2 linked regions of the Homo sapiens genome follow. The protein of the gene in region 1 interacts with the protein of each later gene in a pairwise test. Each region holds a gene or a part of one and is shown in the gene's direction. Other genes may lie near its edges.

Evidence for each region. The genes of interacting proteins can lie anywhere in the genome.
Region 2: the proteins of L3MBTL3 (region 1) and IL16 interact in binary tests that used the Homo sapiens proteins (3 or more experiments, as listed by UniProt).

Annotation. Positions count from the first base shown.
Region 1 is NC_000006.12:130,133,262-130,140,811, forward strand, and holds part of L3MBTL3 (lethal(3)malignant brain tumor-like protein 3), read left to right. Parts: intron 1-190; coding exon 191-360; intron 361-581; coding exon 582-644; intron 645-6,348; coding exon 6,349-6,492; 3' UTR 6,493-7,550. UniProt on the Homo sapiens protein: Is a negative regulator of Notch target genes expression, required for RBPJ-mediated transcriptional repression. It recruits KDM1A to Notch-responsive elements and promotes KDM1A-mediated H3K4me demethylation.
Region 2 is NC_000015.10:81,199,595-81,207,144, forward strand, and holds part of IL16 (pro-interleukin-16), read left to right. Parts: exon of another isoform or gene 1-216; coding exon of another isoform or gene 217-268; intron 269-806; exon of another isoform or gene 807-876; intron 877-7,550. UniProt on the Homo sapiens protein: Interleukin-16 stimulates a migratory response in CD4+ lymphocytes, monocytes, and eosinophils. Primes CD4+ T-cells for IL-2 and IL-15 responsiveness. Also induces T-lymphocyte expression of interleukin 2 receptor. Ligand for CD4.

The DNA of each region.
Region 1 (7,550 bases):
GAATTTACAGGTTGTTTTTTATAGTGACCTTCAGTAAAGACAAAGAAGAGCCTATTCAATAGTATAATGCTGAAAGGAACCAATGCTTTAACCACTCCCACCTCCAGTCTCGTTATCTGGGAGATGCACGGCATTTGGGGCTTTCTTGCTGCTTTCAGAGAGTGATTTCCCATTTGTTTTCATTGACCAGGTGCCCGGGAAGAACCCACCGTCCAGCAGGCACAGCGTCGGTCAGCTGTCTTTCTGTCCTTTAAGTCCCCAATTCCATGTCTGCCCTTGCGCTGGGAGCAGCAAAGCAAACTTCTTCCAACTGTCGCAGGAATCCCTGCCAGTAAAGTTTCCAAATGGAGCACAGACGAGGTATATTTTATTTTCTTTGCTGCCCGACACCAGATACAGGATTACTGGCTTAAGAGGTGTGGAACATTGAGCGTAGGTAGCGTTTAGTCTTTTTTTTTCTGAAAGAGAAGAAATTATTGTGAGAGAAATAACTAATGCATATGGGTTAAATGTTTTGAACCTGTAGCATTTAGATTCTGACTGTGTTTTTTAACTGGGAATTTTGATATTGCTTTTGACAGGTGTCAGAATTTATACAGAGCTTACCTGGGTGTGAAGAACATGGAAAGGTATTTAAAGATGAAGTAAGTATTCCACTAAATTGCAATATGTTACTTAATGGGATCAAAGCACTGAAATGCAGTGGAAGGTGAAATGTGTGGAATTGGCAGAGTCAAAAAGAGATGGGGTGTGTTGAAATTGACAAATTGATGTATACTAACAGGCAGTATGAATCAGTTGTATAAAAATGTCTTTGTATAAGATGAGATGCATAAGAATGTTTGTGAGTACCATTTTATGATACCCCACAGCAGTAACACTAGGCTCCTTATAAAAAGAAAACCCACAGAACTTAATAGCATGCATTTATATAGTTTATAGCACAGAGGAAGCCAAAGAAAGAAAGAAGCAACATTTTCTCTTTTTAATAAAGTGAAATTAGTTTCCATTATTTTATTTTCCAGTGTCATTCTAACAACACCATGATTGACTCCATTTGAGGTTTATAATAAGTAATATTAGCATTATGTCTAAAAAAATCCCTTAAGTCATATACATTCCTCAATAATGTTTATAATAAGATATTTATCACAGTCCACTTTTGGAAGATTATTTTATTAGTTGTTTTCAACTCCCTCTCCAAAACTTCAATATAAGGGGTGATTAAGAATGATATCACTTACAGTGAGCACTAGAATAAAAAGGAATCTGGTTTCTAACTTTTAATTCTGTAAGCGTACAGCAGGAGACCCTTTTCAGTAGAGACCTTTAAAAATAAGCCACTTGCCTGTCATCTCCTCCAAGCAAAGCAGTCAATTACCCCTCTGATTTTGGCTGTGTCTACTCCTGCCAGAAGGCAGAAAGTAGACTGAGTAATCTCAGAAGGTGCTCTCCAACATCTGCTGTCTACAGTTACACGCATACACAACTTGTTTGCCCCTATGTGTAAAGCTCAACTGTTAAGAACAGCACACTTTCCATTTCATTGCAGGAGTATAGACACAGCTAACAATCCAGCCACCAGTTGTCAGTGTTGTTATACTGTTAGGTATAATTTATGCGTTAGATGAAAGCTTGTTAAAATGCACAAGGATCTGATTTCCAACATCCTTTTTCTGATTTATGTTCTTATTGTGCAAAGGTTTTATTTTCTCTCTGTTTGATCTTTAATTGGCAGTTATTCAGATTTTCTTTCCCTAAGTCCTGAGTGTCTTCACTGATACTCTCAATTCATTTTCTGTTTTTTCCTTTTTTTTTTTTTTTTTTTTAAATCGAGATGGAGTCTTGCTCTTCTCTCCTGGGCTAGAGTGCTCACTGCAACCTCCGCCTCCTGGCAGAGGCGATTCTCCTGCCTCAGCCACCTGAGTAGCTGGGATTACAGGTGCCCGCCACCACGCTCGGCTAATTTTTTTTGTATTTTTAGTAGAGACTTGGTTTCACCGTGTTGGCCAGGCTGGTCTCGAACTCCTGACCTCAGGTGATCTGCCCACCTCGGCCTCCCAAAGTGCTGAGATTACAGACGTGAGCCACCGTGCCCAGCCTGAATTCATTCTGTATCGCTGAGCAGACTTAGAGCCACATAGGGAGCTGTTGGTCTGTCTTGGAAAATGTCATGTTGTCATTACCTTTGAAAATAATAAAGCATTTTTGAAAATAAATTTATAATGCATCTCTTTTATAACTTCTGTTTTTTTATTCTGTTGTTATCTAGATAATCCCTATAGGTTTGCTCTATTATTCAGTTTGAGTAAGATTCAAGTTTAAATTCAAAATGAGATGCTATTTTTTGAGTAATTTTTTTTATTCATGGCAGATTGTCTTTGGAGATGTTCCTCAGTTACCAAATATGCTCAAAGCTAGATCCTTTTCTGGAGGAGTGAGATAGTTAATATTCTCTGTCGATATGAATTATTCATTCATTTACTCCTTCATTCATTCATCTTGTGCACATTTGTTAAATTCCGACCATGAGTATGTTACTTTGTGTCATGCTCTTGTGAGAAGGATGATTCGAAAATAATGAAACCTAGTCCTTGTTCTCAAGTGTCTCACAAGGTCAGTGGGTTTGGGTTTTGAGTCCTACAAGTAAACCATAGTACAAATCTAACCGAAGTCTTATAAATCATCTTTAAAAGGCAAAGGACAAGTATTCAGATAGGCTGTTGTTGGAAATTATCCTTGACTTCTCTCTTACACATGCCACATCTCATCTGTTGAAAATCCTATTGGGTGTATCTTTGAAACATGTAAAACCCTTATCACCCTACTGCCACCACCACCCTGGTCTGCGCCACCATCCTCTCCCACTTGGATTAGTGCAGTAACCTCCAAACTCATTTTCCTGCTTCTGTTTTTGCTCCTCTACAGTCTATTCCCAGCACAGCCAAGGTTACCCTGCTGAAACATAAGTCAAACCATGTCACTCCTCTGTTCAGGTCCTTCCAATAGCTTCATCTCTCAATCAGAGTAAAAGCAGAAGTCCTTACAAGGGCCTGCAGTCTGACACCTCATTACCTCTCTTGCCCCCTGGCTTTTTGTTTACACTGCCCCTCACGAGTCTACGTGCTGGCCTCCTTGCTCTTCCTCTGATTGTCCAGGCTTGCTCCCGCTCCTCCTTCTGCACAGAACACTCTTCCTCCAGATGTTCATGTGGCTCACTTCTTCTGCTCAGATGCCAGCTTGCCAATTAGTCCTGCCCTGACTTTCTTACTTGAAATTGCCTCTTGTCACCACACATGCATCCCTGCTCCTGCTGCCCATTCATCTTCCTAGTCAGCTCTGTTTAATCATAGCACAAATCACCTTTTTTTTTTGAGACAGAGCCTCACTCTGTCGCCCAGGCTGGAGTGTAGTGGCACAATATTAGCTCACTGCAACCTCTGCCTCCCAGGTTCAAGCTATTCTCATGCTTCAGCCTCCCAAGTAGCTGGGACTGCAGGTGCGTGCCACCACACCCGGCTAATTTTTGTATTTTTAGTAGAGATGTGGTTTCACCATATTGGCCACACTGGTCTTGAACTCCTGACCTCAAGTGATCCACTGACTTCAGCCTCCCAAAGTGCTGCAATTACACTCATGAGCCGCTGCTCCTGGCCAACATGAGTCACTTTCTAACTTACTAATTAATTGGCTTACTTAGTATGTTTATTGGCTTATGGTCTGTCTACCACTTCTAGAATGTAAATTCCACAAAAAGTTTTTTGCTTGCTTGGTTTTATTTGTTTTATTCCCTGCTATATGTCTAAGCCCAAGAAGAGTGTTTGGAATATAATAGACATTCAGTATATTTTTGTTGAGTGAATACATTCATGCCTTTACACTCTGAGAAAGACTCACTCAGACAGAGCATGTCACTGTGGTTTCGAGTTAAGGCATTGGAAAAGAACAAATAGTGAATAGTGGAAAGGGCAGTGAAATGGAAGGCCAGAGCTCCTGAATTCCAAATCCCTCTCCTTTGTTTTAGGCCATTAGCAAGACACCTAATGTCTGGAATAATGGCATTGTATATGCATTGCAGAAGCTAACCGAAAAAAAAGTAAGCCTTGTAATACATTGCAGTGGTCACTGTTGTTCTTAGGATGTACTTTCCTGAATTAAGTTGACTTCCTTCCAATCAAGACTTGTTTGTATGGCCACATGTCAGAGCAACCTGTATGTAATAAAGAGTTTGGAAGTAGCCTCAAGATTTTTTTTCTTTCTAGTGTATGTAACCTTATAAATAACAACCTACCAAAATGTATCCTTACTGTCCCACTTTTAACTTCAAATCCCAGCCACTAAGTTCTCTGGATGTTTTTTTTTTTCATCAGTTACCTGTTGTGTTATACTCTTACATAGTTTCAGAAGGAGACTTGCTGTCTGCGCCAGGCCTTCAGTAGGGCCAAGGTTGTAATAAACCAGTCAGCCTTTGTAGTGGGCTCCTTGGGAATGTCAGTTGACATTTTCATTAATGACTTAGAAGACTTCTATAAGGCTGTCCATTGTACTAAGGTCTGCCTTGGTTGAGCGAAGTGTTAATAGATCTGCCTTTCTTCCTGACCTTGCTTTATCAGAGGACTGTCATAGCACAAGCAAATGAGAACAGACCAATGTTTCCAGAAAACAGGAGAACATTTCTCATACCTGCCGCTTAACGGTGCTACACTTGGAGATTAACACTGGAACGTCTTTCCTTCTAGTTTACAACAGCAGGATGTCTTTTTACTGAAATTAGCACACTTTTTCCACATAATTGTTACTTGAAGAAGTTGTGTAAGATGACTCCAGTTCTTACTGATGAAGCATTTAGGCAGTCTATATTTACAGGTCTTTCATTTTTAAAGGAGAGAGGAAAATCTTAAGAAGTAGCAATTTAATTATATCAGCCTTGTTTAGAGAACTGTTTGCAGAATTTAGAGTTGTCTTAGTTTGCTAGGGCCACCATAACAATGCCAACCACAAACGGGTGGCTTAAATGGCAGAAATGCATCGTCTCACAGTTCTAGAAGCTGAGAATCTGAAGAAGGCTAGAAGTCAGGGGGTTGGCAGGGTTGCTTCCTCCCGAGGGCTGTGAGGAAAGAATCTGTCCTGGGCCTCTCTCCTTGACTTGTAGATGTGACTTGTAGATGGTGGTCTCTCTTTGGGTCTTTACGTTGCCTTCCCTCTATATGTGTCTCTTTCTCCAGATCTCTCCTTTTTATGAGGATACCAGTCATAATTGGATTAGGCACCCACCCTACTCCAGTGTGACCTCATCTTAACCAGTTACCTCTGCACTGACCCTATTTCCAAATAAAAGTCACATTCTGAGGTACTGGGAGTCAGGACATCAATATACGAATTTTTGTGACAGGGACACCATTCAACCCATAACGGAGTGCGTTGCTGTCAAGGTTTCTGATGTTCTAAGGCAGAGAACAAAAGTGTGTTTTACTTTTTGTACAAGGTGGGAAAACTGAAAGGGAAACTTTTTTTTTTTAAGGTGATAGAAGAGCTGAAAGTCATAATGAAAGACTGTTTCTTTGCTCTGCCCAGTAAGCCAGACATCATTTTCATAGTATTTTATCTTTTAACCTAAAAGATGTGTTGTACCTTTGAACTTCTAGAGAATAGTAGCCTATTTTTCAGAAGCATAGACTTTTGTCTTAGAAGATGTCCAGAGAGAGGAAGGGTCTTTCTCATAGTTACCCTACCTGCGTATTAGAAGAACCACCTTAAAGTCAGTGACTCGTAACACCAGCCTCACATTCACTGTTTGATTGCCCCGTTAGTAAATGCTTTTCTTCTGTGTGTAAAGACTTAACTGTGGCCACACTAGAGATAAGTGTTATCTTTCTGATTTTCTTTTCTTCATGGTGGAAGGCTAATTCTGGAAAAAAAAAAAATGTTGCATGTAGCTGATATGTTTGCCTGAGTTATTTTATGTCCACAAACATTCATGTACCTGTTATCTCTTCTAATTTTAAAACCTGCCATGATAAAAACTAGACTTTGGGCATCCTGGATTTTTCCATATTCTTCTTAACTCTACAACTAATTCAGAGTAATCACAGGAAGATATGGGCACCTTCTGTTTTCCTTTGGCTGGTTTTTCAGGTGAATTAGTTTACTTTGTTCCCAGTCCACTTTGGGATGTGTCATTGTGGATAAGAAAGGTCCATATATCAAGAAATGTCATTGCACACGTGAACTTCTCTGTGCTTTTTTAGCATTGCTATGTAGAAGACAGCTGGTAATTTAACCTTGAATATTTTCTACAACACTGCATCTTGTTAATCCACATTCTGTTGTTTTTTTCCCCCATTTTAGCAAATTGATGGAGAAGCATTTCTACTTATGACTCAAACAGACATTGTTAAAATTATGAGCATTAAACTGGGCCCTGCTCTCAAAATTTTCAATTCCATCCTGATGTTCAAAGCTGCAGAGAAGAATTCTCACAATGAACTTTGAAGATGGTGAATTCTGAATACCATCAGCATTCTGCTTTAAAGCTCATGTTTTATTCAAAGCACAAGGACGGTTATAACTCCTAAGTGAGAAGTCTCCAAAACTCAAAAGAGCAACACTATCGGATTATTTATATTACTCAAGAGACAATATATATGAATTCTTATGAAAGTGCTTGAGCTTTTAACCAGGTACTGTCTAACAACAGTCATCTTTTGGTTCTGTTCACTGAGCTAAATTTATCTTTGTAAATCTTTTTGAGTCTGGGGGGTGGGGGGAAGGGGGGCTTCATTAATTATTTATGGTAATGGGGGGCAGAGTAAGAACTTTTGGCATTTTGTAAACATTGTTGAATTCTCTTTCATGTACACTGTTTCTTTTTCAATACTTTCAGAAACCTTTTTATATAATCAAATTTCAATTTAAACCAAATTAGTCGAAACCTGGCTAAGTTTAGCCAGTAGGACTGTTATCTGTATTGTTAATTTTGTGCCATATTTTGAATTGCAACATTATGCTAAGTATAACTTTGCAAGTCATGATATTGCCTAACTGCTTGTCATAATTGTCAGGGCTGAATAGTTGTAAGAATGACTTTTCTTTGAATCAGTATTTTTCCTTTTGCACGCATTATGAAATGTTAAACAAATTACTTTTCACCAGCATCTTTACTATAATTACCAAAAACATGTATATAAAAGAATGAAATTGAAAAATAAAATATATAAACATAAATAAATTAGGTAGTGTATTTTGAGTGGCATCAGTCTCACTCATCTTGGTGCCCCGGTGTTTACAAGAGCCAGATGGTGTCAGAGGAGTACGCAGTTGTATGCAGTTATGGTTGGGGGGAATGTTTGTGAGGGTCTTGAACTATTTATGAGATGATCTTGAGCTTCTAATTTTCATTGATGAAATTGTGGTGGTTTACAGAGACTAAGAGCTCATTCTGTCAACAGAAACACTAATCTGTACAGAGCGCTGTCTCAGGTCATGCATTGTCCTCCAAACCCAAAGGTTTTTTTCAGGGTTGGCTAGAGAGCGAGTATTGTGATTTTGCT
Region 2 (7,550 bases), on another chromosome or scaffold:
CTCCTCCAGTGGACAGTTACAGCAGCTAAGACATGGCTACCTTGCTCAGCCAATAGGAGGCGGTCACCTACAAACATCCCTTCCAAAGGTTCAAGGCTCCCCTGAGAACTTGGATGCTGGGGAATGGTGCACCTTCCCTGCTGCTCACTGCACCTCTCACCTGGCAAAGAAAAGCCACAGGAAATCTAAGCCCTTTCTGCAGTCTGGCATCGGCATATGAAAGATTCCAACGAGGAATTTCAGAACTCATCCCAGCTCCCGAATCTGAGTAAGCACAGACCTCTTGAGTAGGGCTGAGCAAATGCGGCAAAATCAATGCACATATGACAAGATTCAGTGGCCCAAAGAAGGGAGCTAAATGAGGAATCAAAGCAAATACCCCATATGGAATTGCTGTAAAAAATCAGAGAAAACCTGAAAGTAGTGGTTTTCAAGCATGACCCACTAGTGGATTGAAAATCAACTTAGCGGGTTGGAACCAACTTCCTTTTTCTAAAACAAAAAAAGAATAGCATACATCAGATTGCATCAGGTTCTTAGCAAAATCATATTTTATATTATCTTTTTCATACCAAAGATATTTTATATTATTTTTATTATACCGTAGTAAAGGTATTGTTTCATGAAAGTTTTTAGTTATATATATTTATTTATTTATGTATACATATAAATCTTATGTGTATGTGATCCATGTACTATGATGTAAAATGTAAATTATTATGGTAAGTCAAGATTTTTTTAATTTTTAAAATTCTTTAAAAATTATTTTTATTTATTTATCTATTTATTTTTTGAAACAGGGTCTCACTCTGTTGCCCAGGCTGGAGTTCAGCAGTGCAATCCCGGCTCACTGCAGCCTTGACTCCGTGAGCTCAGGTGATTCTCCCCCTTCAGCCTCCCGAGTAGCTGGGACTACAGGCACACGCCACCACACCTGGATAATTTTTTGTATTTTTATTAGAGATGGGGTTTTGCCATGTTGGCCAGGCTGGTCTCAAACTCTTGAGCTCGAGTGATCTGCTCGCCTCAACCTCCCAAAGTGCTGGAATTAAAGTCGTGAGCCACCATGCCTAGCCTAGGTCAAGATTTTAAAAGTTTCATAAATAGTCCTGTAGAACACTGGGTGGAGTTTGGAATGGTGAAAATGTGTCAGGAGAGTATTGTAACTGAAATATTCCTGATCTTCTCTTTCAAAAAGATGGCCTTCTTCCCATTATCCAAGGCAAGGATTTCAGGCCTGAGTCAGCCATAAGCTCATCTGTCTTTTTTTCTGTACTTACCTCCTCATAAATGGATTAAGAGAGCCTCGAGCAATGGTGAGGGTTGGAGAAGGTGGACAGGTGGCCCAGTCTTATGCGCTTTCCCTCTCTTCCTTCCTTCTCCTCATCCTCCAAGGATGGTTGTAGCCAACTCCAGCCAAAGTGCAGATGCCAGAGAATCCTGCAGCAGTTGCTGAGAACACAGGATACCTGTCACATTTACTGAAGCAGTGGCAGGACAATGCATCCCCTGCATTGAGCTAGTTGTCAGAAGCAGAAAATAAAAAGTGTGTGTGTGTCTCTGTGTGTGTGTGTGTGTATGTGTGGTGAAAAAGAGAAATATATCTAAAAATAATCTTAAAAGACATGATATGTAATTTCTTACCAAAACTCAAGCCAAAGCAATCACACATACACCCACACACATGCACGCACACACCCCCATCCACACACACACACACAGAAGTAAATGACAGCAGTTGGACCATCAAAATCTGAAAAATTCTTTCAGGCCAAAGACTCCATAATGCTCTATAGCTGTTATTTTGCATTTCTTTGAATCTCCTCTCAGTTCTATTTAGAGATCACGAAATGTCTAATTTAATGGCCCTGCCCTTAGTTCTCCAGGAAGGAGATCTTAGTTGTTCATCCACGAACAACTTTTTGAGCCACTTTCCTACTTCTATTTCTTCCAGTAGGCAGATCATATTTTGGGTTTCTTTGTTTTAAGTTTGTGGTTTTTGTTTTTCCCTCTTTTTCTTTTTAGGTTGTAGTTAAGTGGTGTATACAAATTTATTAGCAATTTATTATATTGCCACTTTGTATTTTAATCTTTAATATTAAATTTTGTGTTTGGTAAAAATGCTGTAATTAGTAAAATGTAGAGTAATCAGTTTTTACCCATTCTCTGCTCTTCAATAACAGCTTGTTGAGTATTCTCTCTGATTTATTCTAGCATCAGACACACACACGCGCACACACTGTGCTGCAGCATGTTTTGTTTTCCAATTCTATGTAGCACAAAAAGACTTAACCTCATTCTTCTCCATATCTCAACAGTATTCCATGTATCTTGATGATCACTTACAATATAAGGCAAGTAAGCATAGGCAATTCATCAGATTTGAACCAGAGATGGGGTTACTAAGTGAACTATTAGTTCCCCAGAAGAATTAGCCCAAGCAAAGGTGTTGTACAGTATGTAAAATGTCTTTTCCTACTTTATACATTTTATCTGGCCAGAGAACACCTTTAAACATTAAATGCAATCATCCTTAGTCATTCAACAAATATTTACTGAGCAATTGATAGAGGCCATTCGCCAAGCTAGGCCTCATGGATCAACTCGAAATATGACAGACAGACTCTGCCCTCAGGGAGCTTAGAGTTCAGTAGACATGACCAGTGGTGACACAAGCCACTGGAGTAGCATCAGATGAGTGCTTTGGTAGTGGAAGAACCTGTTCTCAGAGCACAGACAGCTTTGGGGGTCTGTATTGGTTTGTGGTTTCATTTTAAAGAAGTGTTATCCAAAAATAGGGTTTGAAGAGTGATGAAAATTTAGCATCATCAAGGACTATAGAAAATTTGGAAGGCATATCTCCTAATGCTATCCCTCCCCCCTCCCTACACCCACAACAGTCCCCAGTGTGTGATGTTCCCCTTCCTGTGTCCATGTGTTCTCATTGTTCAATTCCACCTATGAGTGAGAACATGCAGTGTTTGGTTTTTTGTCCTTGCAATAGTTTGCTGAGAATGATGGTTTCCAGTTTCATCCATGTCCCTACAAAGGACATGAACTCATCATTTTTTATGGCTGCATAGTATTCCATGGTGTATATGTGCCACATTTTCTTAATCCAGTCTATCATTGTTGGACATTTAGGTTGGTTCCAAGTCTTTGCTATTGTGAATAGTGCCCCAATAAACATACGTGTGCATGTGTCTTTATAGCAGCATGATTTATAATCTTTTGGGTATATACCCAGTAATGGGATGGCTGGGTCAAATGGTATTCCTAGTTCTAGATCCCTGAGGAATCGCCACACTGACTTCCACAATGGTTGAACTAGTTTACAGTCCCACCAACAGTGTAAAAGTGTTCCTATTTCTCCACATCCTCTCCAGCACCTGTTGTTTCCTGACTTTTTAATGATCACCATTCTAACTGGTGTGAGATGATATCTCATTGTGGTTTTGATTTGCATTTCTCTGATGGCCAGTGATGATGAGCACTTTTTCATGTGTCTGTTGGCTGCGTAAATGTCTTCTTTTGAGAAGTGTCTGTTCATATCCTTCACCCACTTTTTGATGGGGTTGTTTTTTTCTTGTAAATTTGTTTGAGTTCATTGTAGATTCTGGATATTAGCCCTTTGTCAGATGAGTAGGTTGCAAAAATTTTCTCCCATTCTGTCAGTTGCCTGTTCACTCTGATGGTAGTTTCTTTTGCTGTGCAGAAGCTCTTTAGTTTAATTAGATCCCATTGGTCAATTTTGTCTTTTGTTGCCATTGCTTTTGGTGTTTTAGACATGAAGTCCTTGCCCATGCCTATGTCCTGAATGGTATTGCCTAGGTTTTCTTCCAGGGTTTTTATGGTTTTAGGTCTAACATTTAAGTCTTTAATCCATCTTGAATTAATTTTTGTATAAGGTGTAAGGAAGGGATCCAGTTTCAGCTTTCTACATATGGCTAGCCAGTTTTCCCAGCACCATTTATTAAATAGGGAATCCTTTCCCCATTGCTTGTTTTTGTCAGGTTTGTCAAAGATCAGATAGTTGTAGATATGCGGCATTATTTCTGAGGGCTCTGTTCTATTCCATTGGTCTATATCTCTGTTTTGGTACCAGTACCATGCTGTTTTGGTTACTGCAGCCTTGTAGTATAGTTTGAAGTCAGGTAGCGTGATGCCTCCAACTTTGTTCTTTTGGCTTAGGATTGACTTGGCAATGCGGGCTCTTTTTTGGTTCCATATGAACTTTAAAGTAGTTTTTTCCAATTCTGTGAAGAAAGTCATTGGTGGCTTGATGGGGATGACATTGAATCTATAAATTACCTTGGGCAGTATGGCCATTTTCACGATATTGATTCTTCCTACCCATGAGCGTGGAATGTTCTTCCATTTGTTTGTATCCTCTTTTATTTCCTTGAGCAGTGGTTTGTAGTTCTCCTTGAAGAGGTCCTTCACATCCCTTGTAAGTTGGATTCCTAGGTATTTTATTCTCTTTGAAGCAATTGTGAATGGGAGTTCACTCATGATTTGGCTCTCTGTTTGTCTGTTATTGGTGTATAAGAAAGCTTGTGATTTTTATACATTGATTTTGTATCCTGAGACTTTGCTGAAGTTGCCTATCAGCTTAAGGAGATTTTGGGCTGAGACGATGGGGTTTTCTAGATATACAATCATGTCATCTGCAAACAGGGACAATTTGACTTCCTCTTTTCCTAATTGAATACCCTTTATTTCCTTCTCCTGCCTAATTGCCCTGGCCAGAACTTCCAACACTATGTTGAATAGGAGTGGTGAGAGAGGGCTTCCCTGTCTTGTGCCCGTTTTCAAAGGGAATGCTTCCAGTTTTTGCCCATTCAGTATGATATTGGCTGTGGGTTTGTCATAGATAGCTCTTATTATTTTGAAATACGTCCCATCAATACCTAATTTATTGAGAGTTTTTAGCATGATGGGTTGTTGAATTTTCTCAAAGGCCTTTTCTGCATCTATTGAGATAATCATGTGGTTTTTGTCTTTGGTTCTGTTTATATGCTGGATTACGTTTATTGAATGCTAAATGACGAGTTAATGGGTGCAGCACATCAACATGGCACATGTATACGTATGTAACAAACCTGCACGTTGTGCACATGTACCCTAAAACTTAAAGTATAATAATAACAAAATTAAAAAAAAAAAAGAAAAAAAAGAAAATTTGGAAGGCATTGGAAGCAGCCTGCACCAAGTCCTGGAAGCTAGAGAGCGCATGGGACATTCAGGGGACTGAAAAGGTTTAGTGCTGTAATAGAATGGAGTTCAAGATAGGGCAGAGCAAGAGCCTGGAGGGGTTGGGGGAGCAGACCATGATGATAAAAAAATTGACAGGCCACAAAACAAGACAAATTTTAAGTCTCAGTGACGGTTGTTAATACGATTTTGAAATAAAGCAAATGATAAATCTTAGACCGGGCGCAGTGGCTCACACTTGTAACCCCAGCACCTTGGGGGGCCAAGGTGGGTGGATCATTTGAGGCCAGGAGTTCAAGACCAGTTGGCCAACCTGGTGAAATCCCATCTGTACTAAAAATACAAAAATTAGCCGGGCATAGTGGCACGTGCCTGTCATCCCAGCTACTCGGGAGGCTAAGGCAGGAGAATGGCTTGAATCTGGGAGGCGGAGGTTGCAGTGAGCCGAGATCACACCATTGCACTCCAGCCTAGATGACAGAGCAAGACTCCATCTCAAAAAAAAAAAAAAAATCTTGAGAGATGATATATAATGATCTATGATGTCCCCTAAATAGTCAATCACTCTGAGAGCACCTAGCACCTCACCTCTTGCATAGGGAAGAGGCATCAGATAGTGCCATTCTTGCAATCAATGAAGAGGAAAAATACAGGCTCAAATATTGCTTTGAAAAATTCTTTACATAGCCACCAGTAATATCAAATAAAATGAATGAAACCTATGATTCATTAAGAAGGAAAAGAAAGTGTGAATAAGTTGACTGGAAAACAAGAAAAGGAATAATTAAGGAGCCATAATAAGAAAAACAAAACATGTGAGAAGAAAGATGAATCAATTAAGCTCTGTAGTAAGATTACACATTAAAATAAAAGAGACTCTCAGATTCAGTTTAAAAAAGGGAAACAAAAAAAGCCTAAAGAAACAAACTCTCTCTCCCCAGTCCAATTATATCCCACTTTCAAGAGACACATTTAAAACTTAATCACATAAAGTTACAAATAAAGGGATAGGAAAATACTGTGCAAATGCAAATTAAAAGAAAGTGAGGTGTCAGTGTTAATTTTGTCAGACAAAATAAAAATTGAGGCAACTATTAAATAGATCAAGAATTACTTTTTTACAAAATGATAAAAAGAGCACTCAATGAAGGCATGAAAATCAGAAAACTTTGGGTAAACATAAAGCGTCGAAATATGTAAAACAAAAAAATTAGAGATATACTCCAAATATGGTGTTAGATTTCAATGTACACCACTGTTAAGATTTTTTCAGATTAATTAGACAAAATGTACATAAAGAGCTTGAATTCTATGACTTACAAAATTGAATATGTGCTTACATATATATGCAGTCATGTGTTGCATGGCAATGAAGATAAGTTCTGAGAAATTTCATCGTCGTACAAACGTTACATAGGGTACTTAAACAGACCTGGATGGTATAGCCTACTACACCCCAAGGCTATATGGTATTGCCTACTGCTTCTAGTCTACAAGCCTGTACAGCATGTTATTGTAGGCATTTGTAACACAGTGGTAAGTATTTGTGTATCTGAACATTTGTAACAAAAGGTACAGTAAAAATATGGTATTTTAATCTTATGGGACCACTATCATATAAGCAGTTCTTTGTTGACCATAATGACTGCATTTTAATATCACATTTGAATATATACATATTTGAAACCCAAAACACAGAATAATCATTCTTTTCAAATGTGCACAGAACACATAAAACACTTAGTCACATCACATACTGGCTAACAGAGTAAACCTCAATGAATTCCAACAAATAAAAATAAGACACATCCTGTGGCACGATGCAATTAAACTGGAATTTTCTAATAAAAAATTGTAAGAACAGCAACACTAAATCTGGGAAATTTAACTACATGAAATTAACAATAACACCAAAAATCTCCTGAAGAACTGAGTTTAAATTGGGAATCAAAACTGCAATTACAGACCATTCCTAAAATAACATTTAGAATATTGTATTTCACAATTCCTGGGTTGGGGCCAAAAGGATGTTCAGAAGAGAATTTCGGGCTTTAAATAATGATGATGATGATGATGATGATGATGACGATGACATGGTGGCAATAAAACCACCCAACAAACCATGCTAAGAAATTTACATCCAGGCCAGGTGTGGTGGCTCATGCCTGTAATCCCAACACTTTGGGAGGCCGAGGCAGGTGGATCACGAGGTCAGGAGATCAAGACCATCCTGGCTAACACGGTGAAACCCCGTCTCTACTAAAAAAACCACAAAAAATTAGCCAGGCGTGGTGGTGGGCGCCTGTGGTCCCAGCTCCCCTGGGGAGGCTGAGGTA